2 separate regions of the Homo sapiens genome follow, and region 2 is linked to region 1. The links come from fine-mapping of genetic effects on gene expression. A gene starts in region 1. The other region holds a variant in brackets. All regions are shown on one strand. Distances are from middle to middle.

Region 1 (16,344 bases):
ATTAGCTATAACCATTTTTTTAATAAAGTAGTTTTTAATTACAATCAAAGGGATTTACACTAGGAAAAGAATAATAATATACTCATAATGTCCATTTTTGACATTATTTGTATATATGTACCTGGAAATATTTACATAATGAACATTAAGAGTAGACCTGGAAATATTCACATAATGAACATTAAGAGTAGACCATGGGAATATTATTATAACTAAAGTTTTCCAAAATCTGAAAATATTCTAAAAAATATACTGGATATAAGATACAATATCTGGCACACTGTACAACTCCAATGCTATTATTGTTATAAAGGCAAAGAAATGAAAAATAAGCAAACAACGATAATCCCTTCAAGTCTATTTTTTTTTAAAGTGCTTAAAAAAGCCCCCAAAAAACCCAAAACAAAACAAAAAAACCCAAAACCAAAACCCATACCTTCTTGGGAAGAGGTTCTTCGTTGGTCATCTTGAATCCTAAAAAAAAAAGTTGCGGAAAACAAGTTCAATTTATTTTCTTCCAGTGAAAGTAGGAATAAAAAATACTGACTCTTTCAAATCAATTTATTAGTGAACTAAATTACTGTTGAATAATTAGAATTTAAATAAACAATTTTAAAATAGTTTTAGATTTACAAAAAAGTGGCAAAGATATTACAGAGTTCCTATATACTCTGTACCCAGATCTTCCTTTGTTAACATCTTCCATCATTAGAGTTATTGGGTAGTTTTTACAAATTCCCTCGTAAAAAAGCTGATCAGCCATTCAAATCATTTGATGTCGCCATAAAGGGTGAAGAGAAATATAATGACCTCAAGTAGTATCCTACGCATGTTGCTAAGGGACTATAAAAGGGTAATACCAGTTTAAGTCTTTCCTTTTATAGCATTATGTTGTTAAAGTAAGGTAGTACCTACCACAGCCATAATTTACTACTGCCCAATAGTTTTTTAGATATATTATATATTTTATTTTTATTTTTTTTGAGACACAGTCTCACTCTGTCGCCCAGGATGGAGTGCAGTGGCGCGATCTCAGGTCACTGCAACCTCCGCCTCCAGGGTTCAAGCAATTCTCCTGCCTCAGCCCCCTAAATAGCTGGGACTACAGGTGCGTGCCACCACACCTGGCTCATTTTTGTATTTTTAGTAGAGACGGGGTTTCACCGTGTTGGTCAGGCTGGTCTCGAACTCCTGACATTGCAACCCGTCCGCCTTGGCCTCCCAAAGTGCTGGGATTACAGGAATGAACCACCACGCCCATCCTATTACATATTTTAAAATATATGTTACACTGGTTGGGCGTGATGGCTCACGACTGTAATCTCAGCATTTTGGGAGGCTGGTGGGTGGATCACTTGAGGTCAGAAGTTCAAGACAAGTCTGGCCAACATGGTGAAACTCGGTCTCTACCAAAAAATTAAAAAAATTAGCCCGGCGTAGTGGCACACGCCTGTAATCCCAGCTACTAGGGAGACTGAGGCAGGAATCGCCTGAACCTGGGAGGCGGAGGTTGCAGTGAGCCGAGATGGCGCGCCACTGCATTCCAGCCTGGGCAACAGAGACTCCATCTCAAACAAACAAACAACAAAAACTCACATACACATGTATGTCACACCTTAATAAAAATATTCCTACAGTATTTAATTTTATGCCAAATATTTTGTATCTCAAAATTAGCTTCTTTATTATACAAAATTCACTTAACCCTGTTTCAAAGATAGGTTAATGAATTCAAGTAGGGAACACTTTATTATGCTGTTTTTTAGAACGAATGCTAATAGCAGGTATTATTCATTAAACTACAAATCCACACACAAAAAAAAGACAAAGAAAAAATGTGTAATAAACATAAACACCACATTAAAATACAAGGTTGGAAAAAAAAGTATACGACATGAAGAGCTAACCTGACAAACATAAAATCTTTATATAAAAATTCTATGAGGATTAAAAAATTGAATCAGGGTTCTGAGTACCAGTGCTCTTTTGAAAAAGCATCTAAATTGCATTTGGCATATTCATAACTTATACAAATTAAGTAATTAGTTCTTATACTAATTTAGTTTTTCCTATTCTTTCTTTCTTAAGAGATGGGGACCCACCATAGTGCCCAGGCTAGTCTTGAACTCTTGGGCTCAAGTCATACTCTCATCTCAGCCTCCCAAGTAGCTAGAACTACCTGTGGAAGGATCACGCCCAGCCCTAGTTATTATTTCTAATAGTATACTCATGAATCTTCCCTTACTTTAAAGTGTTTATGGTTTATTTTAATTACCCATACTTATTATAAATTCTAAACTACTAGAAATTTGACCAAAAGCTTGGTATGTTAAACTGAATTTTTTTTTTTTTTTTTGAGATGGAGTCTCACTCTGTTGCCAGGCTGGAGTGCTGTGGCATCATCTCGAAAGCTACTTGAGGCTGGTGTGGTGGCTCACACTTGTAATCCCAGCACTTTGGGAGGCTGAGGCAGGAGAGCTGCTTGAGCCTAGGAGTTTGAACCGAGCCCGGGCAATGTGGTAAGACCCTGTCTCTCATTAAAACAAACAAACAAAACACACACACACCAAGACTACTTGATTTCTCCCACTTGATTTTGAGATTCCTCAAAAGGAGATAATCTTCCAACAGCATGTTTTATACTACGTACAATCTCAACTCCACTTTATAAATGAAACATTCTAATCATACTGTTATTAAACCCTGGTTTTCAGATTAAGTAAATTGTGTTGAAGAAAGCAGAATTTAGAGGAAAAATCATAAATTGATCTTAGATTACTGGCTTGCTTCTTTCTCTGTTTAATCTTTTTTTTTGGAGATGGAGTTTCGCTCTTGTTGCCCGGGGTGGAGTGCAACGGCGCGATCTCGGCTCACCGCAACCTCCGCCTCCTGGGTTCAAGCAATTCTCCTGCCTCAGCCTCCCAAGTAGCTGGGATTACAGGCATGCGCCACCACGCCCGGCTAACTTCCTTGTATTTTTAGTAGAGACGGGGTTTCTCCATGTTGGTCAGGGTGGTCTGGAAATCCCGACCTCAGGTGATCTGCCCACCTCAGCCTCCCAAGTGCTGGGACTACAGGCATGAGCCAGCGTGCTGGGCTTTTTTTTTTTTTTGAGACAGTCTCGCTCTGTCACCTAGACCACAGTGCAGTGGTGCGATGATGGCTCACTGCAATCTTGACCTCCCAGGCTCAAGTGATCCTCCCACCTCAGCCTCCCGAGTACCTGGGACTACAGGCATGTGCCACCACACCCAGTTAATTTTTTGTAATTTTTTTTGGTAGAGACAGGGTTTCGCCATGCTGCCCAGGCTGGTCTCGAACTCCTGGGCGCAAGCAATCCAACTGCCTTGGCCTCCCAAAGTGCTGGCATTACAGGCGTGAGCCACTGCACCCTGCCTTCCCTCTTTAATCTTTCTCAAGGGATACAGCAAACAGATAAAAACCTCAGTATTTGTTTCTGAGCTAATTGTATACAGTCTGTTTCACTGAGCAAGTCACTCTGTCCTATGAAGACATAAACCATATTACTATGATATAAAATGTATATTATTCTTTTTTTCTTTAAATTGGTTCCTCCCTTGTTGCCCAGTTTATTATCTCTGCTGCCATTACAGAAAGCTGCTTTGTAACTACCTTAACCTGGTGGCAGTCATTTTAATCATCTCAGAAACCATCACCATATTTAACTCCACATGTCTAACTACTTCTATTTTAGCATGACACATGCATTAGGCTGCAAAGTCTTAGAACCCAGATATCAAATCTGGCATTTCCTTGTAATTTCCCATTTGTCTGGAGCTAAATATCAATTTTACACACACACACACACACACACACACACACACTATATATATATACAGAGAGAGAGAGAGAGAGAGAGAAAGAAGCAGACAGAGACACTCCCCCTCCCCCTGCGCCCGGTCTCTGTTGCCCAGGCTGGAGTGCAATGGCGCGATCTCGGCTCACTGCAACCTCCACCGCCTGGATTCAAGCGATTCTCCTGCCTCAGCCTCCAGAGTAGCTGAGATTACAGGTGCCTGCCACCACGCCCGGCTAATTTTTGTATTTTTAGTTTCACCATGTTGACCAGGCTGGTCTCGAACTCCTCACCTCAGGTAATCCACCTGCTTTGGCCTCCCAAAGTGTTGGGATTACAGGTGTAAGCTACTGCGCCCGGCCAATAATATTTTTAATTTAAAAAATCTTAAAGACAATTTTAGCTATTTGAGCTGTACATATTTAACCGGTATATCAGTATCTGTATCTATGTATATACGAACATAAAATTTTGAGAACCAACCAGGAACTTCACGTAACAGGTACTGTGGTAGAGATCTGTGAATGACAGTTTGAAAACAGCTATATTTATCACTATGGCTAGGTGGTATACCTTTTATCTAGTTACTAAGGCATCCTACCTACTCAGTATGTACAACTTTAGTTGTAATACTAAAGTATCATGGATGCTGTTCAATATAAATTCCAGCTTATAAAAGTTATTATAGTTGGTCCTTGACCAACCCAGGTTTTAGCTGCATGGGTCCATTTATATTTGGATTTTTTTCAATCAAACTCAGATTAAAAAATACAGTACTCGGATCAAAAATACAGCATTCACGGGATGCGAAACCTGAGTATGCAAAGGGCAGACTTTTCATACACCAGGGTTCAAATTCCTATGCCAGGATTTTGGCAAGGATCATCGGTATGTGGTTCTACAACCTGATACTTTCCCTAGGTTTACTTGCTTACTCTCTTCTTAAAGACAGGTATCCATATTCTTATTCCACTAAAATAAAATTAACAGTAAGCTTAGCAAAAAATGAGATGATAATCTGTTTTTAAAGGGCATTAAAAGGACTGAGAAACACATGAAGAAAGTTCTGATAACCTTGGTATTCTGAAACAGGTTGTCAACTTTGCAAATACAAAAGTAGCAAAATCTCTGCACCTCAGTTTCCCCATCTCAAAAAGAATTACCACAACCAGGGCCCAAATACTGTGCTATTTCTGAAGACAGACATTAATCTTTAGCATGGTAACTGGCACAAAATGGGCATTTAATTAATAGTTTCTTCTCCCCATCAAAAACACAGACTCAGTGTTTCTTGAAAAACCTGAAGAGATAATCCACAGGTTGAGGATAATAATCATACTGTCCTCCCGACTGTTTCTAACACTTACTGCAGAATTCTTTGGCATCTCCAATATTTAGGATTCTAAACAGAAGTTACTTAAATTTTCTTTTTTTCCTCTCTTTTTTTGAGACAGAGTCTCACTCTGTCGCCCAGGCTGGAGTGCAGTGACTCGATCACAGCTCACTGCAGCCTCCATCTCTTGGGCTCAACTGATCCTCTTGCCTCAGCCTCCTTTGTAGCTGGGATCACAGGCATGAACCACCACGCCCAGCTAATTTGTTTTTTTTTTCTTGGTAGTAGAGATGAGGTCTTGCTATGTTGCCCAGGCTGGTCTTGAACTCCTGGGCTCAGGAATCCTCCTGCTTGGGCCTCCAAAAGTGCTGGGACTACAGTTGTGAGCCACCATGCCCAGCCTGCAATTATTGAAATTTCTTTTCTTTTTTTCTTTTTTTTGAGACGTAGTCTCTCTCTGTTGCCCAGGCTGGAGTGCACGGGCATGATCTGGGCTCACTGCAACCTCCGCCTCCCGGGTTCAAGCGATTCTACTGCCTCAGCCTCCCAAGGAGCTGGAACTACAGGCACGCACCACCATGCCCAGCTAATTTTTGTATTTCTTTTTTTTTTCTAGTAGAGACAGCGTTTCACTATGTTGGCCAGGCTGGTCTCCAACTCCTGACATTGGCTTATGTTCTTTTTAAAAAGTTTGATGGTGAGTAGATTTTAATTAAATGGTGCTTTTTATTGAAATTTTCTTTAAAAATAAAACTCTGTATTTGTAATGTAAGTCAGGAGTAAATACAGATTTTGGATAAATGTCTACACTTCCTAAGTCAACTCTCAGAGTCACTTTTAAGATCACTCTAGCTGTCTGGGGTATCCAACTTGGGAAATTCAGAGCCTCAGTATTTAGAAAGAAAATCCTTCCTCAACTTTAATCTGATGAAAAGTAAATCTTTCCTTGAAAGTCGATGATATGCCACAAAGTTAAATGCGCCATCTGGCAAAAGGCAAATTAGAACAGGTTCAAAATTTACAACTGTCTACAACATTCAACTATTTGGTCAAAATAGAACCTAATTGGCAATTTTGACTTTCACACCACACGAATGTACCGAGAAGTTTGGTATTCCCCAGGGCAATTTTTTTTTTAGCGCAAATGACAAACACAATAACCTAAATTTAAAGTCAATTCTAGATTCATAAAGGCAATGAATATTCTAGGTTCTCAGAACAATCTATTCTCGTATCAGAAAAACAGAATGACCATAACATCATTTGGAGTCAATTAAAGTTGAATCCTGAAGGAAAATAATAAAGAAAATATGTTCAGTTCTTATGAATCACACATTTAATAACAGCACTTTTCAAAGTCAAAGTTAGTTCCCATTTTCCAGGATGAAAATGACTGTTAGTCATTAGGTGATCAGCTATTAGGTGATTAAAACAGCTATTAATTAATAAATTGGGGGTAAGGGTCTCAAATTTGGTGCCCCTCAAAAGGGTGGTAACATGATTGACTAGTTTTAAAATTACATAAAAGTTTCAGTTATTTATGTAGATAATTCAGAGATAATATATCTCAGAAAATCAGGACCACCATCTACTCTTGATGCCTTAACACAGAAAAACAGCTTAGTATGGAGTTCAGTCTAGACTGGTTAGGTGCCTAGCATCCCAGATCCCAGTACCTTCCTGGCTCTTAGCATCATAAAGTTAGGTAACTCAGTTCCCTCTGAACGGAGGCAAGCGCCAGCCAAAACAACTTCAGTAAGAAGACACGGTACCTTGGCGAACAAATCATAGCTGAATGTAAGACACCAATCTGCAGACACTGTAGTAGCAAGGTACTGATGAGGAACTGAAAGGCCATCTTTTCCTTATCCTCTATCTGCCATGTGTGATTCCAAGCAAGTCTTTTAACTCTTGCAGTTTCCAAGTCAGCAAAAAGATAATTTTGCCTGTCTCACAAAGTGCTGCAAATATTAATGCTTTCAGCACAATAAAAATGCTATAGATTTTTCAAATAAAATATGAACATAATATGAACATAAAAGGCAACTTCAATGTGCACTTAGAAAAGATTAAATTCTATTAACTACATCTTCAAAGGCAGAAAATATTTACAGCAATATATTTTAGTCAGATGGAACATCTTGTTATACACAATACACAATGAAGTTTACTATTGTGGAGATACTGAAAAGTTTTTCTGTGTTAAGCTTAGTAACTACAAGAAGCAAAATATTTAGAGGCAGAAAAGTTGGAGACAACTAAAAAAATTAAAAACAAGAATAAAACCAAAATACTATCTTCAGTCTTCTTTTGCTGAAGGACCTACTAACTAACGTACAATTTTGAGGAGCAAGAAGCAAATACATAATGATCAAAACTGCTAAACAATATATTCAAGGGGATTCAATACTACATACAAGACCATAAGAGACCTTGAACGCTTTAATGTACTGTACAAATTGTGACAATGCTCATCTCCACATCACAGGGCTTTTTACACATTGTGTTTCATCTCTACCAGCTTATTTCTGACAAACAATACACAAAAATATTTTCAGCAAACATGACTCAACGTTGAATTGGAAAAGCTAGACATAAAAGAGCCATGTAAAAATAAGCAGTGCCTGGGACACACTATTATTATTACTTTTATCCTTTAGGAGTTAGCAATTCTGGTAGCTTGTCCAAATTCTGCCAATGAAAAAGTACTAAAAATACTGAACTTTTAAACCATGTGTCTGCTTAAGATACCTTAACATATAAAAGCACTGTAAGAAACACACCTACCCAAACCCTTAAAATGTAACCTCAACCTTATCACAAGCCAGCTTTGCGGACTGCAATCTTTCCCCGACTTGGCTAATCAGATGCTACTTGAATGAATTAAAATGTATCCATCTTGAAAAGATTTTTCGCTCATAGTTTTAAATTACGGTTTTAAATGTCCACAACATGTTTATCTATCGTAGAAAACTTAATGGTCAAAATTTTAAAATCCAAAAAACGAGAACTTGCGATGGATCTATGACGTCCACTTATCTTCCGAAGCAATGGAATTAACTAAAACTAGATAAAATAGGCACAAATACAACTTCCAATTGTAACATACTCATAGAAGTATTTCCCTACCAGACTAAATAATAGTTTTTTTGTTTTGTTTTGTTTTTTTTACATAATCACAGTTATGCTAGTCCTTGATAATGTTAAGCTAATCCTTTGGGATCAAACAACCAAGTGACTTTCTTATCAAAACAAGAACTCGGGCTTTTCCATTACGTGTACACAGACTTATGAAAAACGGTGAAAAAAAAATCTAGTAACTGTCTCACAGGGATCCAAGGTAAGACTTGGATTTCACAAAAATCTGCAATAATTCAGTTTCTTTCCTCAGAATGCTTATACTCATTTAAAAATGGAAGTCTACAAGAGAACGTAGTAACATCCTACTGCGTGACATGAAATGTAGGGAACGAATGTTTCTTTTTTTCCTTGCTGAACTCGTTAGTGCCGCCAGGTCCTCAGGAGAGGCCCAAGGGAGGTGAAGGGGGCGACCCCGAGGCGAGGAAAAAACGAGCGCCGCCGCTCAGCCCGGGGAGGGCATCCTCCGGCCTCCGTGAGTGGCCGGTCTCTCCGGCCGCCAGAGCACCCCTCTCAACCCGGGCCTTGGGGACGGAGGACAGAGATAAAATGGCCTCGAAGCGGCGGAAGTGTTCCCCGCAGGCGGGAAGGTAGAGCGGCTCACGAGAGACCGGTGCCGCACCAGGCCCGTGTGGCCTTTCGGGCCCTGCCCGCCCCTTACCCGCCGGGGGCGGCTGCGCATCAGCCCTCAGGCCCCGGAGGTCCCCCGCGTCCGCTCCCGCCAGCCGGCCCGCGCCTACCTCTCCAGGCAGAAGCCGCGCCGGCGCCACCGGTCGCATAGGCCGAGGCCGCGCTGCTTGCCCTGCCGCCCGGGCCCCCCGGGCCACCGCGCAGCCGGACAGCTCTGCCGCCGGCCCCGCCGCGCTCCTAGTCCCGCCGCAACCCCTGCGCTCCCCTTTATTTGTGGGTCTCGCTGCCACAAAATGGCGCTGAGGGAGGAAACCAGGCCCCGCCGCCCGGCCCCGCCCCGCCGCACGGCTCCGCTCCGCCCTGCCCCGCCCCACAGCCGGTCCGAACGCGCCGCAGGCCAGCGCCACTGCCTCCCGCCTCCCGCCTCCCGCCTCCCGCCAGCCTCCCCGCTCCGCCATGTTCGCCTTCTGGCCCACTCACAGGAGAGTCGCCTTTCAGGCGTGGCCGCAGTCACTCGCCCGCCGCCGAACCCCGCCAGGAGAGGAAAGGTGAAGGGAGGGAGGCCGTCGGCCTAGCCCGATCGGGGCCTCGAGGCACAATGGAGCAGCTGCTCCCCGGTAACACTCCCCGTCCTTTCCCAGGAGCCTGGCGCGAGCTCCGCGGGCCCCGGAGCTCAGCAAGCTCAGTAAGGGAAGCGGCCGAGGGGAGGGGCGGGCCAGCGAGGTCGGAGGTCAGCCCCAGGGCATCACGGGAAGGGAAGGTGGAAGTACTCGCCGGGGCCACCTGCGGCTGCGGGGCTGCCTCGTGCGGAGGGATCTGGGCGAAGGCGGCGCGTGATTGGCCGCTCTGTGTTCGTGACGCTCATCCGTGATGCTTCCGCGTGTCGGAGGACCAGGTGCCACCTCAAGAGAGAGGCCGTGGGCGGCGAGCCGCGGGCGTTTACTCTTAGCAGAAGCTCACCTGTAAGTTTTGAGAACTTAGAAACCGATGCCTTCCCTCTCATCAGTCGTGAGGCGCAGTCTCCTGGCCGCTGGGTTCGTTCCTCCTTGACATCTCTGGAGACGCATCGAGGAGCTATTGTTCTCTGGCGTCGGAGGTTGCGCTGTGTCCGCGGCGTTGAGGGCCCCTTGCTAACTGGAACACGGGGAAGGCGGCCCTGTGAGGTTTAGTGAACTCAATCAAAGAGGTCCTGCAAGTGGAGTAGACTCCCTGAAGTAAGACTGCCATCTGGACCGCCGAGTAATGGCGGTGTTACCTGGAGAACGTGAAACAGTCTCTAAACACTTACTAGAAGAGCACGTAATTCTTTTGATTGGTCTGTCCTTAGCCGGCTTTATCAAACCTGTTCATCCCCAAAGGAGTGTCTTGTAGTAAGGTGATTTATTAGGATAAGATTAAAGTACATTCCAGATGGTCGTAGTATATTTCCAGTGAATCAGATCGGTCTGGAGAAAATCTTTGCAACTCGTATCACAAGAGCTCTCAAAAATTGAAAACAAAAAGTGCAAAAGCCAAAGGAGAAAATGGGGAAGGACATGAACAGATGATTCTCAGAAAAAATACCGTAATGGTCTTTAAACATAGAAAGTCGCTCCACCTCACTTACAATGGAAATACACGTTGAAATTACCTTTCCTGGTGGGAGTGGAAAAATGGTTCAAGTTCCACGGAGTACAAAATTACTTGTGTTTATTCTTATACCTTGCAGTTATACTTCTAACCCTAACCTTATTCTGAAGGTGCAGCTCCACACATGGAAACAATAGGTATACAAGGTTATTGCAGTGCTATTTGTCATAGCAAAAGTTAGGGATAACCCAAATATCCGTTAATAGGGAACTGATTGGGAATGGTGCATCCATACAGTAGAACACAATGCAACCATTAAAAAGATTCAGGAAATAATCGTGTGTTGCTTTGGAATGAGTCTCAGGTTGTATTAAGTATTCACTTAAATATTTAAGTGTAGTAAGTATTCACTGTATTCAAAAGCAAAAATAAGCATATATGCTTTTATGTATTTACTTAAATACATAAAAATATATATTTATATTTAATATGAATATTTATGTGTATATGCTTATTTTCGGGGAGGAATTGGAAGGATATCCTGGAAACTTAACATTTTTAGTTGCCTATAAAGAGTGGGGGGTGGAGACAAGATTTCTCTGTCTTTGAACTTTTAGTTTTACATAGCCAAAAAAGTAAATAAAAAAGGAAACAAAGTAAATCCTAAGGTTGAAAGCAAATTGAAACAAATGAACTTAACTGTTAACTAATATAACTAAGATACACAGAAAAAATAATTATTCTTTGGGTTTTTTTTTTTTTTTTTGAGACAGTCTCACTGTGTTGCCCAGGCTGGAGTGCAGTGGTGCAATCTCAGCTCACTGCAACCTCTGTCTCCTGGGTTCAAGCGATTCTCTCAGCTCAGCCTCCTGAATAGCTGGGATTACAGGCATGCGCCACCATCCCCTGCTGATTTTTGTATTTTTAATAGAGATGGGATTTCACCATGTTGGCCAGGCTGGTCTGGAACTCCTGACCTCAGGTGATCCGCCTGCAGGTTGGCCTCCCAAAGTGCTGGGATTACAGGAATGAACCACCACCACTGGCCCCTCTGAGCTTTTGAACACAGTACTCTAGTAGTGTATCTGTGTTGTGATAGTGTAGTCTTTCCTTATATGCAGGAGATTGGATTTAGGACCTTCTGCGAGCATATACAGAAATCTGCATACTAAAGTCCCGGAGCTGAGCATAGGGAAAGTTGGTTCTTTGTGTAGGTGTGTTTTGCATCCCACTGTACTTCTGTTTTGTTTTCTTCCTTCCTTCCCTTTCCTTTCTTTTTCTTTTCTTTTTTTCTTTCTCTCCCTCTCTTCTTCCCTCCCTTCTTCCCTCCCTCCCTCTCTTCCCCCCTCCCTTCCTTCCCTTCTCTTGCTTTTCTTTTTTTTTTTCTTTTTTGAGAACAGGGTCTGACTCTGTCGTCCAGGCTGGAGTGCAGTGGTACGATCATGGCTCACTACAGCCTTGACTTCCTGGGCTCAAGCAATCCTCCCATCTCAGCCTCCCGAGTAGCTGGGACCACAGGCATGTGCCAGCACATCTAGCTAATTTTTTTCTATTTTCAGTAGAGAGCTGTGTTGCCTAGGCTGGTCTTGAACTCCTGGGCTCAAGTGATCCTCCCACCTAGCCTCCCAAAATGCTGGGATTATAGGTGTGAGCCACCGTCCCTCGCCCCACTGTATTTTTCATCTGTGTTGGGGTGAAAAAAATCCACATATAGGTGGACCCTGGCAGTCCAAACCAGTGTTGTTCAAGGGTCAACTGTGTATTCTAAGGATGAAAAAAGTGCACAGGAGCTTTCAGCTTCACTGATTTATGATTAATGGTAACATTGTTACTGTGGTTTTAAAACTCTGTACTGTATATGGTAGGATAACATAAGTATTTTAATGTTACTATATACAAAGATGTGCAGTGTGTGAGAGAATGAGATACAAACACAAGATCAAAGAAGTTCAGAAAAGGGCCGGGTGGCTGATGCCTGTAATCCCAGCACTTTGATAGGCCAAAGCGGGAGGATCACTAGAGTCCAGGAGTTTGAGACCAGCCTGGGCAACATAGCAAGACCCTGTCTCCATTTTTTAAAAAATTTAAAACAATTTTTAAGACGTTCATTCATCCGGGGGTGGGGGTGGAAACTAATATAAAGAATTTTAAGAAGTTCAGAAAAAAAAAGTCTGTAGTATTGAGTTTAAACTGGAGGGCTGGGTGCAGTGGCACACACCTGTAATCCCAGTGCTTTGGGAAGCCAAAGTGGCTTAGGAGTTCAAGACCAGCCTGGGCAACACAGTGAGATCTTGTCTCTACAAAATACAAAATAATAAAATAGCCAGGGGTGGTGGCCTGTGCCTATAGTCCTAGCTACTTGGGAGGCTGAGGCGAGAGGCCCAAATGAGCCCAGGAGTTTAAAGTTACAATGAGCTGTGATCTCACCAGTGCACTACAGCTTGGGCAACAGACCCTATCAAAAAGAAAAAAAAGTTTCAACTGCAAAAAAAAGTCCTAGTTCTGTGGACTGAAAGGGCCTAGAAGCACTAGGGTGACCAGTTGTTCTAGTTTGCCACAAACAGAGGGGTTTTCTCTGGATGCTGGACTTTCAGATTAAAACTGGAACAGTCCTGGCTGAACCAGGATGTATAGGCATGGGCACCCTACAGTAACAGTGAGCACATCTGACACTGAGATCTTGGTTTCTAAATTCCATTTCCCACTAAAAAGATCCAGAGCTCCTTTGGAGAACTGGCTGATTCCAGCTCTGGGACGGGAAAGGTACAAGATGAGCCAGGTATTTCGTTGTGCCTGAATGCAGAGGAAGTGCTTAGACCAATGAGGCTATGCCAACTGTAGTTAGGAGAACAAACAACACTAATCCATAGTGGTAGATAGCAGATCAGTGGTTGGTTAGGAGGGGAAGAGAGAAGGAATTGACTGGAAAGGAAAATGGGAGAACTTTTGGGGGTGATGGAAATGTTCTGTGTCATGGTTAGTGGGAATGTATACGTTTGTCAAAATTCATCAAATTGTGTCACTGTAAAGAATGCATTTTATTGCAAACCAAATGAGAAAAGCAAAGTCGATTGAGAACTTGCTGTAGCAAGGGAGTCAGCCACCATCCCTTATGTTTTAGCAGAGGTTCAAAGGCATGCAGAGGAGTGGGAAAGCTTTACAGTGGACAAAAGGAAAGGTTTCACAGGTATGCCTGATTGGAAGCTGTTGGCATGGGGAAGCTGGAAGCTAACTACAAGTTGGCATCCTATGGTCTTGGTTAAAGGAGCATATTTGGCTTTCTCTGGATGGGCATAAGCTAGAAGTGAGGACAAAAAGTAGGGAAGCTGTCAAGTTTTAATCAAGTCCTGGCCATTTTGAGCTGATTGTCATAGAAGTTATTATTTAGCTTCCTGGATTGCTACCAGAGATAGCAGTCTGACTTCCTACAAGTCTGGTTGATAGCAGGTTTGGCTTTCAGGCTGAGAGTACACTTATGGTAAATAAGTGGTTGGTTTACTGGGCTAGTTGTTGTAGGTAATGGGTCAGAATTCTGTTTTTATGTATATTCTGGCCATTTACCATTTGTATTTTCAGTCTCTCAAAAATAAATTTTAGAGACATGGGAGCCAGCTTGAAGGATCTCCCAGGGGGCAAATTTAGGGCAATTTTAGCGTCAAAAAGAAAATGAATACAATTGATTGCAAATACTGAATAAATAAAAGTCTACTCTCTAGTACAGAGAAGAGAGAATGAGAAGAGGGAAACTATTTTTCCATCATTGGTAGTGTCTATTACACCAATTTGATACTCTGAAAATTAGTTATTAAAGGGAGATAGCATTTACCCTGTTTGTTTTTTGTTTCATTTGTTTTTGTTTTTAAGACAGAGTCTTGCTCTGTCATCCAGGCTGGAGTGCAGTGGCACAAACATGGCTCACTGCAGTCTTGACCTCCTGGGCTCAAGTGATCCTCGTGCCTCGTCAGAAGCTGGGACTACAGGTGCCTGCCACCATACCTGGCTAAGTGTTTTTGCTTGCTTTTTTGTTTTTTTAGAGATGGGGTCTTGCTATGTTGCCCAGGCTGGTCTTGAACTCCTGGGCTCAAGTGATGCTCCCACCTCAACCTCCCAAAGCGCTGGGAGTACAGGCATGGGCCACTGCTCCCAACCTACCCTGCTTTTTTTTTCTTTTTTTTTTTAATAAAGAATGTGGTTTATACCCAGTTGATGAGGAAAAACTCTTCTTTACTATAGGATGCCAGCTAATAAGTATAAAATAAAATATAGAATTAGACAATAACCATGATGCAAACCTTAATGAAATAATTGACTCAGACAAGGACTATCAATGGACTTCAAAACCTTTAGATGAAAGATTGCTGGGAAATGCCATCAAAGTATCACTCTACAGGCTACTTACCTAATTGTAAAAGAAATTACAGGCTGGGTGTGGTGGCTTACGCCTGTAATCCCAGCACTTTGGGAGGCCGAGGCTAGCAGATCATGAGGTCAGGAGTTCAAGACCAACCTGGCAACATAGTGAAACCCCATCTCTACTAAAAATACAAAAAAAAAAAAAAAAAAAAAAAAGGTCAGCCGCAGTGGCTCATGCCTGTAATCCTGTAATCCCAGCACTTTGGGAGGCCAAGGCAGGCAGATCACCTGAGGTTGGGAGTTCGAGACCAGCCTGACCAACGTGGAGAAACCCCGTCTCTACTAAAAATACAAAATTAGCCGGGCATGGTGGCACATGCCTGTAATCCCAGCTACTCAGGAGGCTGAGGCAGGAGAATTGCTTGAACCCAGGAGATGGAGGTTGTGGTGAGCCAAGATCGCACCATTGCACTCCAGCCTGGGCAATGAGAGCAAAACTCCGTCTCAAAAATAAATAAATAAAACGGCTGGGCACGGTGGCTCATGCCTGTAATCCCAGCACTTTGGGAGGCCGAGGCGGGCAGATCACGAGGTCAGGAGATTGAGACCATCCTGGCTAACATGGTGAAACCCCATCTCTACTAAAAATACAAAAAATTAGCCAGGCGTGGTGGTGGTCACCAGTGGTCCCAGCTACTCGGGAGGCTGAGGCAGGAGAATGGCATGAACCCAGGAGGCAGAGCTTGCAGCGAGCTGAGATTGTGCCATTGCACTCCAGCCTGGGTGACAGAGCGAGACTCCGTCTCAAAAAAAAAATTAAAAAATATAAATAAATAAAAATTAAATAAAAATAAAAATACAAAAAAAAAATAGTCGGGTGCAGTGGCATGTGCCTGTAGTCCCAGCTCCTTGGGAGGCTGAGGCAGGAGAATCACTTGAACCCAGGAGCAGAGGTTGCACTGAGCCGAGATCGCGCCATTGCACTACAGCCTGGGCGACACAACAAGACACTGTCTCAAAAAAAAAAAAAAAAAAAAAAAAAAAGGTAAAGAAAATACACCTGTATAGTGGAGCCATCTGGTGGTCACCATTTGAACCAAACCATCAAATTTAGTATCAGTAATAGTGGGACAACCTCCAGTTTACAGAGAATACAAGAGAAAGGGTTGTCATGCAAATCTGATAGTACTAGCAAAGATAATTATTCTAAAAAAAAAGTCGTAAGACTATAAGCAATAAATAGTTATTGAGCAGCTGAGTTAGGCATACTATAGTCTCAGTTTCAGTATCTAACCAGCTTCAAGTCACCATTTCAAATGAAATATCAACGCGTGATGAAAGTTAACTTACTACCATCCTTTTCTTGGGGTTGCACTACTGTCCAATGGGTACCTAGTGAGGGCAGTACTGCTAACTCCTGCACAACACACCGAAATCAACTAGAGCTTTGCTTTGCCTTGGTGCAGTTTTTGGAGAAATGAAAAACAGCTTTCCCATACACACA
Region 2 (16,344 bases), 100 kb before region 1:
AATGGGAGTAATGCTGAACTGGGGAGGAGGGCAAGCCCTTCTGGGGAGACGACACTTAGGCTGAGACCTGGAGGTTGAATGGGGCTTTGCATGCACTGACTCTGCCTGGAGAGAAAAGCATCATAGGCTGTACTTGAAATGGAAACAAGTCCAATCTTCCAATAAGCTGGATGCCCATAGAACTGAAGCTTGAGAAACTTACCTTTGCACTATAAGACACATCTGCTGCCTGTTGACCAACTTCCTTACTACTCCCTAATTCCTGATTTCCTACAAGTACCTACCATGAGAGGCTAGAGCCCCCTCCCCCAACCCATTCAACCACCTCCTACCTGTTAACCAACTCCTCCTCCTTGCCCTGCCTGTTTTTCTTCCTGGCTGTATAAACCCCTGACGTTAGTTGGGAGGGAGGGATGGATTTGAGGTTTGGCTCTGGATTCTACAGCTGGTATCATCCATAATACATTAGAGCCTTCTTCCCTGGCAATACTTTTTGTCTCAGTATTAGCTTTCTGAGCAGTAAGCAAGGTGACCTAGACTGAACCCCTGGTGTTTAGTAACAAACTCACACATGAAATATATTTTTAGTTGATTAGAAAGGGATAATAATTACCACTGTATGCACCTGTGCTAAGCATTTTTTTTTTTTTTAAGAGACAGGATGCCGCTCTGTAGCCCAGGCTGGAGTGCAGTGGTACAATCATAGTTCATTGCAGCCTGCTCCAACTCCTGGACTCAAAAGATCCTCCCACCCCAGCATCCCAAGTAGCTAGGACTACAGGCGTGCACCACCACACCCATCTAATTTTTAAAATTTTTTGTGGAGATGGAGGTCTCATTGTGTTGCCCCGGCCGGTCTCAAGCTCCCTGGCTCAAGCAATCCCCCTGCCTCGGCCTTCCAAAGTGAGCCACTGCACCGGGCCACTATAAGCATCTCACATACACCATCTCACCAAACACGAAAACGGCAAGGTTGACATTAACACTACTGGCACTACTTTCACAACCACAGACTTGGATGTGAAGAAATGTCCCTTCATAATTTCTCCACAATTAAAAATAACTCCATTTCCTAGGTCGTGAGGTCGAAAATATTCAGTCCTACCAATTCAGAACTCAGTTTCTCAGGAGTCCCTTCCTCCGACGCTTCCTCGTCTCCCTGGAGGTGATGGCAGCCCTCTGGGGAGGGCGGATGGTTCCTGCTCCTGCCACAGGGAAGGAGCACCCGGTCCTCTGGCTTCCTCTGCTGGCTTCTGTGAAATCTGTTTCTTGCTGGTCCTCACAGTCATGCATTGCCTCCTTGCCGAGATCCTACGTCCTGGCGTGGGCTCCTGCTCGCGTGGCGCTCCCCTGCTGCATCTTGGTCCCCCAGAGCTGATGTGGTCCCCTTGGGGCGAGCTAGTTCTGCGCCCTGAGAGCCACATCTCACTTTTCTCACGCTCTGTCTGGAGGCCCCCCGCCCCAGGTGACTTGCCAGCCACCGTCAGCTGGATTCAGTCAGTGGGATGCCCTGCGGGGAGGTGGGGGCAGGAGGAATGGGGGAGCCAGCTGATGTCATCCATTCTCACCCAGTCTCTTGGCTTCTCAGGCAGCACCTGCAGGACCTCCACAGCCCCCGCAGCACCCGCCTCCCTCCCAGCCCTCCCAAGGGGCCATGGGGATTTCGGGTGTTACTAAGCTCTGGGGCCCGTCTCGTTCCCTGTGCAGCCTTTTGGCTCTTCCATCGTCTGTAGAACTGAAACAGCGCATCCAACTCCCTAAAGTGGGTTATGGTTTCCTGATGCGAAGCTGCCTGATAGAAAGTCGCAGGACACTTAGCAGCTCCTGCCCTCGGCCCACCCCCCCGCCACGCCTCGCCGTTCCTGTTTGTTGTGGGGTCTCACCCACTCCCTGGGAAGCCCCCAGTAGCCTTTCTGCTCCGGGGTCCCTCCAGGCTTCTTTTCTACAGCTCCTCGGAGACCCTGGGCCTTCCAGCCCTGGCCTCCCCCGCGCGGCTGCTCGAGCACGTATCTCTTCTTGGATGGAAAACGGCTCCTTATCATCGTGCATTTTTCTACCCATGACTTCCCTCACAAACTGGGCAGCATCCAGGAGGCTCTGCTGGGGATATGCCATGCCAAGTTTTCAGCATTGTGAAAAACATGAAGTAAAACCTCTCTCAAGAGTCAGCTTTGCAAATCAAAAGCACTCTGGCTTTCATACAGTTGCCTCTGTTCTGTCTTCCAAAATCCTACATAGATTAAACTCAGAAGCCAAGAATTTGACTTTTTGGTAGAGGCTATAGCCTACCATCCCCCTGGGACAGTTAATATTCCTGATTATGGTGGATAAAGAGCTGTGATAGGAGGAGCAGGAACCTCAGCTTTAAAATCTCCAAAATGGCCAGGCGCGGTGACTCACGTCTGTAATCCCAGCACTTTGGGAGGCCGAGGCGGGTGGATCACCTGAGGTCAGGAGTTCTAGACAAGCCTGGCCAACATGGTGAAACCCTGCCTCTACTAAAAACTAAAATAATAATAATAATAATAATAGAAAAATAAAATCTCCAAAATGTATCCTGTTACATTATTGCCATTTTACAAATAAAGAAATAAAGTTTTTCTTCTCTTGCCAACTGACTACTGGCAAATCAACAACCATTTTCTTTAATGTTTGAGCAAATTGTATCCCAATTCCTGTCTTGATAAAGACAGTTGGGCATTCAAGAAAATTCCTGGCCAATGGCAATGAAATTGAGAAGAAAACAGACTGCCCGGGGCCTTCTCAGATACAAATCTCATGTATTAGCATTATGTGAAGATCCATTGATATATTCCTTCTCTCATGTGCTGTTTACCGTAGGCTCCCCCTACCCCATCTGGGCAGCCAGGCAGGAGAGCAGCCATGGGATAATAAAGTGGATTATTCCATATTGAAGGCCTTTTTGGACAATTGTATGGTGGCCTTGAAATGTACTTTCTCATTTAGACGTGGTGAGCAATGGGCGAACCAGAGAAACAAAGAAATCAGTTATTGGCTTTTAAGCTAAAAATAAAACAGGAAAGATTTGCAAGTCTGTCCTATTCAACAAAGCTGCTTTCCCTCCTCCTCTCCTCCAGGCCTCTTGGCTTCTCAGGCAGCACCTGCAGCACCTCCACTTCAGGTGGAGGAAAAAGGAGCCAGGAAAGAGTTAGGAAAACTTGGGTTTTTGTCTGTTGCTGGATCCCTGGCATTGGGCAGGGAAGGAGTGAGAATGAAGATAGGTGCCTCCAGGCCTCGCAATAACGATGGGAACCAGTTTAAAGGGGAGGTGAGAGACTGAAGTGTGAACTGGTAAGTGAACAAAAACAACAAAGAGAATGCTAGAGGGAAATTGCAAAGCTACATATAGACTGATTAGTGTCCTATAGGACAATAAAACCACAGGTTTTGGGGTTATCCTCTCCTATGAGCAAGAACTATTTTCGTTGTTATTGGACAAGAATTATTTGCATCTTATCAGTTTTCAAAAAGTGAACACCTAACTTTACAGGATTGTAAAATGTTTGGCCTCTAATCGGTAGAAACTAATAAGCCAATCAAAGTTACATTGGCTTAAAATAAAACGACTCCAGGTGAGCTTGTTAGTATGACAATGAAAGTCATGTGGGTTGGGCGCAGTGGCTCACACCTGCAATCCTAGCACTTTGGGAAGCTGAAGTGCGAGGATTGCTTGAGGCCAGGAGTTTGAGTCCAGGGGTTCAAGGACAGCCTGGGCAACATAGACCTCATCTCTACAAAAAAAAAAAAAAAACCTAAAAAATTAGATGGGCATTGTAACGTACATCTGTGGTCCCAGCTACTTGGGAGGCTGAGATGGGAGGATTGCTTGAGCCCAAGAGTTTGAGGCTGCAGTGAGCTACAGTTGTGCCCCACTGCATTTCAGCCTGGGTAACAAGGCAAGAACCTGTCTCCAGAAAAAAAAAAAGAAAAGAAAAAAAAAGTCATGTGGCTTGTTTTTGCCTGACATCCACATTTTGGATAATTTTTTTCTTAATAGATTCTCACGCAGAGCGTACCTGTCACCTGGTTGGTCTTTCTAGAACTCAGGTAGTTGACATGGCAGCCTCACCAGGGTCCCTCATGTGACATTCACAGAGAGGCTACAAGAGGTATCCAGAGTGAGCTGTAGGGGTGTGCAGGAAGCCAGACAGCCCTTCCACCTGCCACAGGAAATGGTGGGGGGTGAGGGAGGGGTGGGGGGCGGCAGTGGGGAGGAGGGGAAGAAGAGAGAATATGAGGGATCTGAAGCACCTTTGGGGGCCTTTCAGCTGAGATAAGGGCAGCCAGTGGCAGAGATTGGGTGGCCCATCGCCACAGAGATCCCAGAGGAAGCCCCTGCCTCCCAGCCCATGTACAGGTGGGAGCATATGAAGGCCACCCAGGTAAGTCACACCTCAAAGGCTACTGGCTTAGAATCAGGACAGAGAGAAGTCCAAACTGACCCCCCACCGCTCTCCCCCAACTTCATGCCCTTTGCATCTGCCTCTCAGAGCTTAGCCTCTGTCTTAGGGTAGGGAGGAGGGTGGACACCAAAGGGAAACAGCCCTGAATGGGCAGCGTTTATCTGGTATTGCCTAAATTATGGGTTCTGCTTGGGCAGAATGGGAGCTTGCAGCAAGGAATTAAATTGAGTTAAAGGAACTTACATGTGCACATTTGAGCTCATGGTTTGTGAATTCATTTTGGCTGTATTTATAACCCTTTAAATCTCTAGAGTGAAGCTTTGTGGAGGTTCTCAGACTGGCCACTAGAACAAGCAGTGAGGCAAATTTCAGAATGTGCTTCCCATGGTAGAAATCTGGTGAGCAGGATCGTGGAAGCTTGGACTCTGACTAACCGCTGGAGAATTGCAGCTCCAATTTTTATAGAGCTGGACTTCCTAAGTGCCAGGGCCCTCTCCAATTAGGTCCTCAGATAGAACTGATTGAAATCTTATATTAAATATAAGTACTTTGGCTGGGCATGATGACTTGAGCCCATAATCCCAGCTCCTTGGCAGGCTGAGGCAGGAGGACTGTTTGAGGCCAGGAGTTTGAGACTAGCCTGGGCAACATGGCAAGATTCCATTTCTAAATTTTTTTCAAAATTAATAGGGAGCAGTGGTGGGTGCCAGTAGTCCCAACTACTAAGGAGGCTGAGGCAGGGAGATCACTTGAGCCCAGGAGTTGAAGACTGCAGTGAGCTATGATCATGCCCCTGCACTCCAGCCTGGGCAACAGATTGAGACCCTGTCTCTAATAAAATAAGTGAATAAATACTTTGAATGCTTTTTTCATGCTAGGAGTGTCCAACTCTGCCTTCTGATAGGCTCCACTTGTTTCCTGCCTGCTTGCGCTGATTAGGCATGATGAGTGTGCTTTATGCTGCAGAGGGCCTTCCTTCCCTTACTGCCAGCCAAAGAAGAGAGACACCACCTGTGAAGTATGTGCAATTTCACCCGCCAGTTAAACCTCTTTTCTGCTCCACCCAAAAAATAGCTGAAGGGAAGACGGCCAGGATTGAGGGTGTCCCTTTCAGGAGGTAGCGTCAGACTTCATCAGATCTTGAAGACATTGTGCCTACAGGTCTGGGTGTGGCTAACCATGGACCAGCCTCCAAGGCTTCTCATAAATCCCTGTCAAACTCCTCATGTTGACGTTGAACCCAGGGAAATTACTAGAGCAAACGGTCTCCAAACTATTTCAATCCTATTTCCTTATCACTGAAACAAAGCTGAGGACAAACCCTGGCTGTGCACATGTATTAATAATGTACATACATGTATTCCATGTACTAATATATTGCATATATGATAAAACACACAAAATAAGAAAATTACTATTATTATATTTTTAGACATGGAGTCTCCTTATGTTGCCCAGGCTGATCTCGAACTCCTGGGCTCAAGCAATCCTCCTGCCTCAGCCTCCCAAAGTGTTGGGATTACAGGTGTGAACCATTGTGCCCACAAAATAGGAAATTTAAAGGGAGGGGTGTGCATTGTTAGGGAACCCAGGCACCCTGGCCCTCAGCCTGGCCCTGCAGCTCTGGATGAGGCTCTCATCTCCTTCTTCCACCTTTCTGCTTTCCCTAATCCCCAATAAAGGAGAAACAACAGCATTGTGTCATTCACAGGCACAGAGATAAAACAATTTAGATACAACCAGATGGCAACTCTGATGCATGACAGGTGAAGCCCAAAATTGGGACTTAGCCCGGAAGGGTTCTTGGCTTCCCCCAGGAAAGAATTCAAGAGCTACCCAGTGGTGTTCAACAGCAACTTGTATTGAAGCCACAGCATCCAGGAGCAGCAGAGGCACTGCTCCTTGCGGTACAGGGCACTCTCCAGGAAGTGTGTCCAGAGGAGCAGCTCAGATTTAGGGCTGCACTAATATTTACACCCACTTTTAATTATACATGAATTAGGGGGTGGTTTATGCAGAAATTTCTAGGATGAGGGTGGTAACTTCCTGATCACTGGGTCATTGCCATGGAAAGGCGCAATAATTTTTGGGTGTCGCCATGGCAATGGTAAACTGACATGGCACACTGATGGGTGTGTTTTCTGGAAAACTGCTTCCCCTATAACCTGTTTTAGCTAGTCCTCAGTTTGGCCCGGTGTCTGAGCCCTGCCTCCGGAGTCAAGTCCCACCTTCTACCTCAACTCCACACCTTGGCTCAGGCCAAAACTTTATCATTCTTGACCCCTCTTTCTCTTAACTCCACATTCACTCTGTCAGGACATCATAGCAGCTCCACTGTCAAAATACACCCAGATCTAGAGCCCCTGCACACCTCCCCACTGGGCCACAGCCACCTCTTTTGCCTTCCTCCTTCCCTAGTCAGCCAGACCTTATCACCCTGAGCTGGCAGCCCCTCAATGGCTCACACCTCTGCTGAGAAGTCAAAGCAATCACCAGTGCCTTCTGTGCCCCACCTGACCGGCCCTCCACTTCTTCCCTGGCCTTGGCTCCTGCCTCACCCACCCAAGTTCTCTCAGCCATCCTGGTGGCTGGAGCCTCTTTGCAGGGCCAGGTGCTTCCACTGGGCCCTGGGCCAGACAGCACCTGGAGCTCTGTCCACAGCCGGGCAGGTGTCTCAGCCCTGATCTCTGCCAGGTCTCTGCTCAGGCATCCCCTTCTCTGCGCACCCTGCCTGAGCACTGGAAGGCAGCACCCGACTTCTCCTCCAAGTTTCTCTGTAACCAGCACTTGATCACCTCACAGGCACTCTCATCTCGTTGCTTGTCTAATGACTCCACACAAATGCAAATTCCTGAATCTTTGCTTTAATGGCTGCAGCCGGGGCATCTGGAACAGTGCCTGGTACAGAGCAGGTACATTTGCATGGAATGAAAGCCTGCGCTCCAGGGTCTTCCAGTATAAAACACATGCAGATTTTAGAGACAGGAACAAGCCCAAATTGATCAATAAGGGAATGGGAGAATGAGTGCTTCCCTTCCTTTTCTGTTTTACACAATACAATATTCCTTTTTTAGTCTTTAAAAAACTATAACCTCTGGCTTCCAGGAGTTCAGAACATCCCATCTGACTACGAGCACAGGTCTCAGCAGGGTCACGCAGGCAGTGGCCACTGCTGCTGCTCCACTGGGCTGAGGACACGGCCTCAGCAGCGAGGAAGGTTTGGGCAGCTCCCTGGGATGGGAAAGAAAGCATCTTTACAAGCTCACATGTCAAAGCCTCTGTGCCCTCCACAAACCCAGCCAGAGCCAACTTGAGAACAACTTTATCTGGCTTGTGCTGCCCAGAGAATACTTGTTTTTGGATCTCCACTTTCTCACGATCTTTGGCAGAGCCACATCACACACTGGGGGAGCTCTTCTGAGGATTAGGACTAAGTCTACACCAGGGATTCTCTCCCAGGGGAGAGTAGGGACAGAGTAGGCAGCTGTGTGCCAGAGAGCTCTCCTACTATCTTGCGCTCAGAGCAGGCTCGGCCCGCAGTTCCCCTCACAGTGTCTTCCTCAGAAACACTATTGCCAGCAGGCAAATGTTTGAATCTGGTTCTTCCTGTAGGAAAAAGGGATAAAGGCAAACAATAGCAAGAGCTGGGGCAGGGATGGGGCAGAATGAGGGACCTCTAGGGGAGCTTCCGAATGCTGAAATCGGGTGAAGCCATCCAGCACCGCGGCAGAGCTTCCAGAACAGCGACGCAGGAGACTGGGTGGATGGTGGGTGCTGGGTCACCGTGGTGGCCACGCAGTCTGCAAGGCCTGTAACCAGCTCAGCCGCATCAGACCCTGCTTCCTGGGCAGGGCTAACCCCACTCACTGCGCAGGGCTAACCCCACTCACTGGGGAGTATGAGGTAGGAATAGCACTTACCTGGGCAGGTGCTTCATCAGTGTGTCGCTGGAGAATGTGGCAGGCAGAATAATGGCTCCCCAAAGATGCCCAGTGCCCACAGCCTAACCCCAGAACCTGTGAGTATAGCACCTGATGTGGCAAGAGGGACTCTACAGACATAATTAAGGGCTTTGAGATGGGGAGTTTATCCAGGGTCATCCGAGGAGGAGGGTCCGCCTAATCACATGGGTCTTAAAGCATGGCAAAGCATTCCCTGCTGTGGTCAGAGGAGACGAAGCTACAGAAAGATCGATCAGAGAGATTCCACATTGCTGCTGCTGAAGATGGAGGAACAGGGCCACGATCCTGGGAATGTTGGTGACCTCTAGAAGCTGGAAAAGGGGAGGAAGCAGCTTCTCTCTGAGGCCTCTGGAAGGGCACACAGCCCTTCCGCCCCGACTTCTTGATTTTAGCCCCGAGAGCTGTGTTGGACTTCTAACCTCCAGAAATGCAAAATGGTAATTGTGTGCTATTTTAAGCCACTACATTTGTGATGACTTGTTACAGCAGGAAACAGGAAACTAATGTAAAGAAGTAGGCATGACTGTGTCCAGTAAAATGCAATTAAATAAGAACTAAAGATATTTCACAGGGCTGTCCCCACAAGCAGGACAAGAGAGCTCTATTTTCAACAAAAAAATTTTAATGCATTTTCATGTTTAAAGTGATAGAAATACATGCTCATTGTAAAAAAAAAAATGGTAAAAAGATCCCTAAATATACAGAAAATAAAACCATATGGTCCACCTACTCTGGGTAGCCCCCACCAAGACTTCTGTGCGTTTTCTTTCAGCTTTAAGTTCACTTTTTTTTTTCTTTTCTTTTTTTTTTTTGGAGACAGGGTCTCACTCTGTCAGGCTAGAGTACAGTGGTGCGTGATCTTGGCTCACTGCAACCTCTACCTCCCAGGCTCAAGTGGTCCTCCCACCTCATTCTCCTGAGTAGCTGGGACCACAGGTGGGTACCATGATGCCCGGCTAACTTTTTGTATTTTTGGTAGAGATGGGGTTTTGCCATGTTGCCCAGCCTGGGATGGAACTCCTGAGCTCAGGCAATCCAACTGCCTCAGCCTAAATGCTGGAATTACATGTGTGAGCCACTGTGCCTGGCCTTTAAGTTCACTTTCATTTTTTATTTTTTGAGATGGAGTTTCACTCGTCGCCCAGGTTGGAGAGCAGTGGCGCGATCTCAGCTCACTACAGCCTCCGCCTCCTGAATTCAAGTGATTCTCCTGCTTCAGCCTCCTGAGTAGCTGGGATGACAGGCACTCACCACCACACCCAGCTAATTTTTGTGTTTTTCTTTAGTAGATACGGGGTTTCACCATGTTGGCCAAGCTGGTCTTGAACTCCTGACCTCAGGTGATCTACCTGCCACGGCCTCCCAAAGTGCTGAGATTACAGGCGTGAGCTACCACGCATGGCCGATTTCACTTTTAAAATATAACTGTCATCACTCAGATGCTAAGTTCTATGTACTAATTTTTTAAAAATAGTACATTTCTGGTTTTGAAGGGATGCACACTCAAGATTTTTATAGTACAGAAAAATATATGACAAAGAAATTCGAAATCACCAGGAGCCCCTCGAGAGATAACATTTTAACATATTTTATTAGTCTTTTTAAAGGATAACTGAGAATACCTTATATAGTACACCTTTTCTTGCCTACACAGGAATAATCACAGGTGTTAGAAGAGGGGAGAGATGATTGATTACAGGTTATTAGTGTTTCCTGCCAACCACCACCATCCCCCAGATTCCATCACAGAACAACAGTCCGAGTTATTTAAAGGTCAGCAATCCAAAGATCCAGATCACTCGAGTTCTTTGGCCATAAAAACAGGCAGCAGATGATGCTTGATATGGTTTGGCTCTTTGCCCCACCTAAGTGTCACGTGGAATTGGAATCCCCAGTGTTGGGGGAGGGGCCTGGTGGGAGACGATTGGATCCTGGGGGTGAACGGCCCCCTGCTGCTCTTGTGCTAGTGAGTTCTCTGGTTGTTTAAAGGAGTGTGGCACCTCCCCCTTCTGTCTTCCTCCTGCTCCAGCCATGTAAGATGTGCGGGCTTCCCCTTCGCCTTCTGCCATGATTTTGTTTCCTGAGGCCTCCCCAGCCATGTTACCAGTACAGTCTAGGGAACCGTGAGTCAAACCTCTTTTCTTTATAAATTACCCAGTCTCAGGTATTTTTTTTTCTTTTTTTTTTTTTTTTT[TTG/G]AGAGAATCTTACTCTGTCGCCCAGACTGGAGTGTAGTGGCATGATCGCAGCTCACTGCAATGTCCGCCTCCTGGGTTCAAGTGATTCTCCTGCCTCAGCCTCCTAAGTAGCTGGGATTATAGGCTCATGCCACCACGCCTGCTAATTTTTACATTTTTAGTAGAGACAGGGTTTCACCATGTTGGCCAGGCTGGTCTCGAACTCCTGACCTCAAGTAATCTGCATGCCTCGGCCTCCTAAAGTGCTGGGATTACAGGTGTGAGCCACCGTGCCTGGCAGGTATTTCTTTATAGCAGTGCAAGAAAGGACAAATACTCTATAGCTCTGTTCCTATGGAGAAGAGAAACAGTCTTTTGAGAACCACTCCTCCCTCCATACCTGGAGTGCTGCAGCAGCTCAGCACCAACTGTGGTTTCAAGAGCTGGACGAGTCTCAAGATGACAGGTGGGACACAAGAGCCACATGGCTGCAGCTGGAACAGAAGCCGCAGCCAAAGAGCAGCCTGGGAGAGCCCCAGGGCCCCACTCCGCCAGGAGGCGCCGGGGCTGAGCCTGAGCCTGAGGCACGAGCTGCAGTCCTGTGGATGCTGCCCGACTTGCCTTGTTTTTTTAAACCAGTTTGAAATTACACCATATATATTCACGATAGACAACTCCAATATAAAACAAAAAAAAAAAAAAAAGAAAATTGAAATAACTCATGACCCTGCAGGCAGTGTGGCATCAAGAGAAGCTGCCCACCGCTGGCCGGGGCGTGCCAAGGCCAAGCACCCGCCCTGTGGGTGTCAGGCGTCTCCGTCCTATGCGGGCACAGTGACAGTACTTGGAAGGTCACTGGGCAGTGAGAGTACTTACTTGGAAGGTTACTGTGAGGAGCACATGAATTAATAACTGCAAAGGACTTTATTCAGCATCGGGTGTGCAGTAATTGCTCAGCAATGTCATTCCCTAACATTTTGGGGTGCACCTTCTCAGGTTTTTCCAGTGTACTCATGACCACACTGTATGTGGTTGATACAGTTTGGATATTTGTCCCCCCTCAAATTTCATGTTGAATTATAATCCCCAATGCTGAAGGTGGGGGTCTAGTGGGAGGTGTCCGGCTCACGGGGCCAGAGTTCTCATGAACAGCCTGGGCCATCCCTTGGGTGATGAGTGAGCTCTGGCTCTGAGTTCACCCGAGATCTGGTTGTTTAGAAGTGTGTGGCACTTTCCCCTTCCGCCCCCTCTCTTTCTCCTGCATCCACTATCTGAAGCCTGTTCCTGCTTCACCTTCCGTCATGAGTAAAAGCTTCCTGAGGCCTCCCCAGAAGCAGATGCTAGCACCACACTTCCTGTACAGCCTGCAGAACTGTGAGCCAATCAAACCTCTTTTCCTACAAATTACCCAGTCTTGGGTATTTCTTTATAGCAGTGGGAGAACAGACTAACACAGTGGTTTTCCTGTGCTCATGACAAAAACATCCTCCCTGTCGCTCATCCTTAGGAATTGTTCTGGATTAGGTGCCCTTGGCGGGGACGCCCCAGCCCCTCCCTAGCCAGGACATGCTGACCTTTACAGCCATTGCTTGTGTACTGTCGCCCCACTAGACAGTGGGCAGGGACTGGGCCAGCCCCAGGCCCTCAGTGGTGCTGCCAGCCCACATGAGCAGGAGGCACCCCGCTCTGGAGAGAAGCTGCATTGTAGGGAAGGCACACTGGGGAGTTAGGGACACAAATCTACCTCTCTACATTATGATAAGCACTTGAAAGTACCAGGGGACAGAGGAGGGCCGATGGCTCTAACCGACGTGAGGAGGCGCAGGAGAGGACGAGAGTCTGCAGACCACCCGGCCCCAGCGCCGGCTCCTGCCTCTCGTCCACCACCACCAGCAGCATCCTCGTAACCCCCTCAGGGTAAACCGCCAAAAACTAGAGTAGCAGTTGCAGTGGCAGCAGCAAGGCCACCCCAGTTTTGCCAAAACTGTCCTGCAACTAACCCACCGTGACAATGCTTGCTTCCCATGTTCAAGTAGTTTTGGGTGGTTTTTAGATTTTTGGTTGTAAGTAAGCGTATTTTTCTGTATTTCACCCATTCCAAGACGCACTTTCCCTCCATTTCAACATCTTTGAGATCAGGGTGTATCTTAGGATGAGGGACAAAAACCTCCCCGGCAGCATTTATCCCTTAGTGGAACACAAAACAGTGGTCACTCTCCAGTGAAGGATGTCTCAGACAACATGAGACATGGTTGCACCAAATCAATCAACTATTTAATTACCACTTGAAGCTTTTGTTTCATGCTTAGAAAGCCCTTCTTCATCCCAAGATTAAATCGTTTTCATTTCCTTTTATATGATTTGCCTTTCTTAACCTTAAATATATGACATGTCTAATTTATTTTGGTGTAAGGACTAAAGAATTGGCTTTTTTTTTCTAAACGGCTCTTTGTCCCAGATTTAATATGGTACCTTTATCACAGCAAAATTCCCAGATGCACTCAGTCTATTTCTTACCTAGATTCTATTACTATGCCAATCTCACAATGTATTAATTATAACTTTACGCCATAGTCTCATCAACATGCAATTACAAAGGCACCAATTTTGTGCACATTAAGAAAACACCAATTAAATTAACACACACCATTGACTGTAAGAAATAACCCAATCTCAACGATGTGAAAATGGTAGAAAATGCACAGCTTGGATCAATGTACTCCCATACGGCAGGTGGGACAAGTCATCTTGGTCACTTATCTTTTTCAGAAGTTTCCTGATTGTTATATTTTCCCAAATAATTTTTTTTTTTTTTTGAGATAGAGTCTCACTCTCTTGCCCAGGCTGGAATGCAGTGGCACGATCTCGGCTCACTGCAACCTTTGCCTCCCGGGTTCAAGCGATTCTCCGGCCTCAGCCTCCTGAGTAGTTGGGAGCACAGGCATGCCCGCGCCTGGCTAATTTTTATTTTTATATTTATTTATTTATTTTTGAGATGGAGTTTCTCTGTTGTTGCCCAGGCTGGAGTGCAATGGTGCGATCTCGGCTCATTGCAACCTCTGCCTCTTGGGTTCATCACGTGATTCTCCTGCCTCAGCCCCCTCAAGTAGCTGGGATTACAGGTGCCCGCCACCATGCCTGGCTAATTTTTTGTATTTTTGTAGAGACAGGGTTTTACCATGTTGGCCAGGCTGGTCTCGAACTCCTGACTGCAGGTGATCCACCCACCTCGGCCTCCCAAAGTGCTGGGATTACAGATGTGAGCCACTCCACCTTGCTTCCAGCTAATTTTTGTATTTTTTGGTGGAGATAGGGGCTCAACATGTTGCCCAGGCTGGTCTCGAACTCCTGACCTCATGTGATCCGCCCACCTCAGCCTACCAGAGTGCTGGGATTACAAACGTGAGCCACCATGCCTGGCCCCAGATAATTTTTAATTTGGCAAGTCACCACCATACAAAAAAATGAGGTTTTAATTAGTCTTACAGTGGATTTTCAGACAAACTTATAGAAAATTACACAAAGGATTTTAGTGGTTAGAAAGTAACAGCCTTTTTTTCCCCTTAGAAAGTATCTCAAAATTTACAACCTCTACCACATACTTCATGCCAAGAAAATTAGTATTGCTGTCTCATGAGCTAAAAAGACCACAGAGAAAGAGAAAAGCTTTCTGTAGTAACAATAAATGATATGAACCTCTGTATCTTTCAGAGAAAAGGAAAGATACTTGCTATGGACTGAATGTTTGTGTTTCCCCCAAATTCCCAGGTTGAAATCCTAACCCCTAAGGGGATGGTCTTAGGTGAGGCCTTTTGGGAGGTGATGAGGTGATGAGGGTGGGGCCCTCTTATTGGATTAGTGCCCTTACAAGAAGAGAAGTGAGAGAGATGTTCGCTGTCTCTGCCACGCCAGGATGCAGCAAGAAGGCAGCCCTCCACAAGCCCAGGAAGAGAGCACTCTCCAGGAGCCAGTTCAGCTGGCGCCAGCTCTCAGAGTTCCCAGCCTCCAGAACTGTGAGAAATAAGATTCTGTTTTTTAAGCCACCCTGTCTATGGTATTTTTGTTACGGCAGCCTGAACTTAGTACCTGAAGGATGTAAAGAGAAAGATTAGCTAATTTTAAGATCATTTAAGGCTATTTCTAGTCACTTTCTTTCTCATACCAAAAATCTCACAGAAATAATTTAAACCACAAACAAGAACCAAAATTGTAAGAACAAGGACATGAAATCACATCACTTCTAAGTGATCAGGTCGTGTGGGTCAGTGAGAACACCCTGGGCTGGGCAGATTCGGAGGCTGCCATTTGTCTTTTCCCTCTGCTGCAGAAGCACATCAGTTACTCAAGGCCATTTTCAAAGCACCTCACCTGAGCAGCAGCAACAAACTCAAATCCCTGTCGAAAAACACAGCAGAGCCTCCAGCCATGGGGAGCACTGGCTTGTGAGGATACTGAGGGCCCCTGCAGGTTCCAGAACTCCACTGCCCACCTGTGCAGGGCCAGGCCAGGGGACACTGCCACACAGCACCAAGTGCTCTAGCAGGGACAGGCAAGAGGCACTCAGACAGGTTGAGCCCCCGACACCTGACAGGTACAGCAGGCAACAGTGACCTAGAACCTAGAGGAGATGTCCACTGAGCTGGGTCAAGTGGTGAGTGGCTCAGAGAAGAGGAAGAGAAACAGTGATCCCAAGGACAGACACCCGTGGGGGACCAGAGACACAGCAGGGCCCCAAATACAGAGAGAAAGGGCTTGTGGACTTGGGGCAGAATCCACAGAAGGAGCTTGGGCAGGAGAGATGACCAGATTTGCCTTCTGGAGCCCACTTATGTCCGTGAGGGCCACAGCAGAAAAGGGAGAAGAGGAGGCAGGCAGGGCTCTCCCAGAACTGAGGAGACCCTGAAACTGTCTAGGTAATGTGAAGGGGGTCTGGACAGCCAGGAGAACTGCACGAAGACAGAAGCTGCCAGTGAGTGGCTGCTCAGAGGAGGGGCAGGGATCGGGGAGAGTCTAGGAGCTGCAAGTGAGTGGCTGCTCAGAGGCGGGGCAGGGAGGTGGGGAGAGTTTAGGAGCTGGAAGCTACAGCTGGGGAGGTGCTCACAACCTCCATCGAGGCAGGTGAGTTGGAGGGAAAGTGATCCATCCTGCCTGTGTGGAGCTTGGCGTGTCTGTGGGAAAATCTAGAGGCTCAGTAGGTGAACTGGGACCCAGGAGAGAGACGTTAGCTGAGAACAAACTTCAGAGTCATGCTGGGGCCCGGCACTGTCACGGCGGATGGTGCCAGGTCCTTGAACACCAACATCTAAAGGGCCAGGGGAAGAGTTGAGGGCAATCGAGAAGAGAGTGACCAGAGACTTGGGGAGAGCGTCCAGAGGAGCTGCACCACCCAGGGCCATGGAGGAGTGAGAGGGAAGCCAGGGAGCCCTAATGACTGGCTGGGCCCCGGGCAGCAGGGGCGAGAACGATGGAAAGCACGTGCTCGAAAGCCTGGGTGGAGAGGGAAAGACCAGCTGGGCCACAGGGAGAGGGGATAGAGTTAGGGAAGGAGAGAAGAATGGCTGGCTTTTTGCCTTGTTTCGGTTTTATTCATTTACTGATTGGAGGGAGACCTGCAGGTAAAACACAGCCTTGAAGAGCTAGGGGAGCGGGGAGAGCACCTTGGGAGAGACTCAGAGCCTGCCTCGTTCCCTCACCGCCATCTAGGCAGGGCAAGAGCTGCTAAGGGCAGGAGGCCCCGAACCACTCAGCATTTCTGAGCAGTGCCCTGGTCAGCAGCGCCTGAG

What was found. PIP is the estimated chance that this variant, and not a neighbour inherited with it, causes the effect.
Region 2: its variant is fine-mapped to the expression of WTAP in CD4 T cells (BLUEPRINT, PIP 0.95).

Annotation. Positions count from the first base shown.
Region 1 is chr6:159,720,388-159,736,731 of GRCh38, reverse strand. WTAP (WT1 associated protein) reads right to left here and starts at 9,226. Exons shown (of 8, transcript NM_001270531.2): 1 at 9,029-9,226; 2 at 437-474. The coding sequence starts at 466. It also overlaps a transcript of SOD2 not described here and the pseudogene RNU4ATAC18P. RefSeq lists silencers at 2,784-3,044, 8,808-9,357 and enhancers at 8,820-9,417, 9,368-9,497, 9,848-9,937, 9,418-10,015.
Region 2 is chr6:159,822,211-159,838,554 of GRCh38, reverse strand. No RefSeq gene overlaps it. Among named protein-coding and RNA genes, the nearest start is that of PNLDC1, 30 kb to the right of the region's middle. RefSeq lists enhancers at 7,317-8,050, 16,167-16,344. The variant TTG/G (reference allele first, on the strand shown) is at 10,581.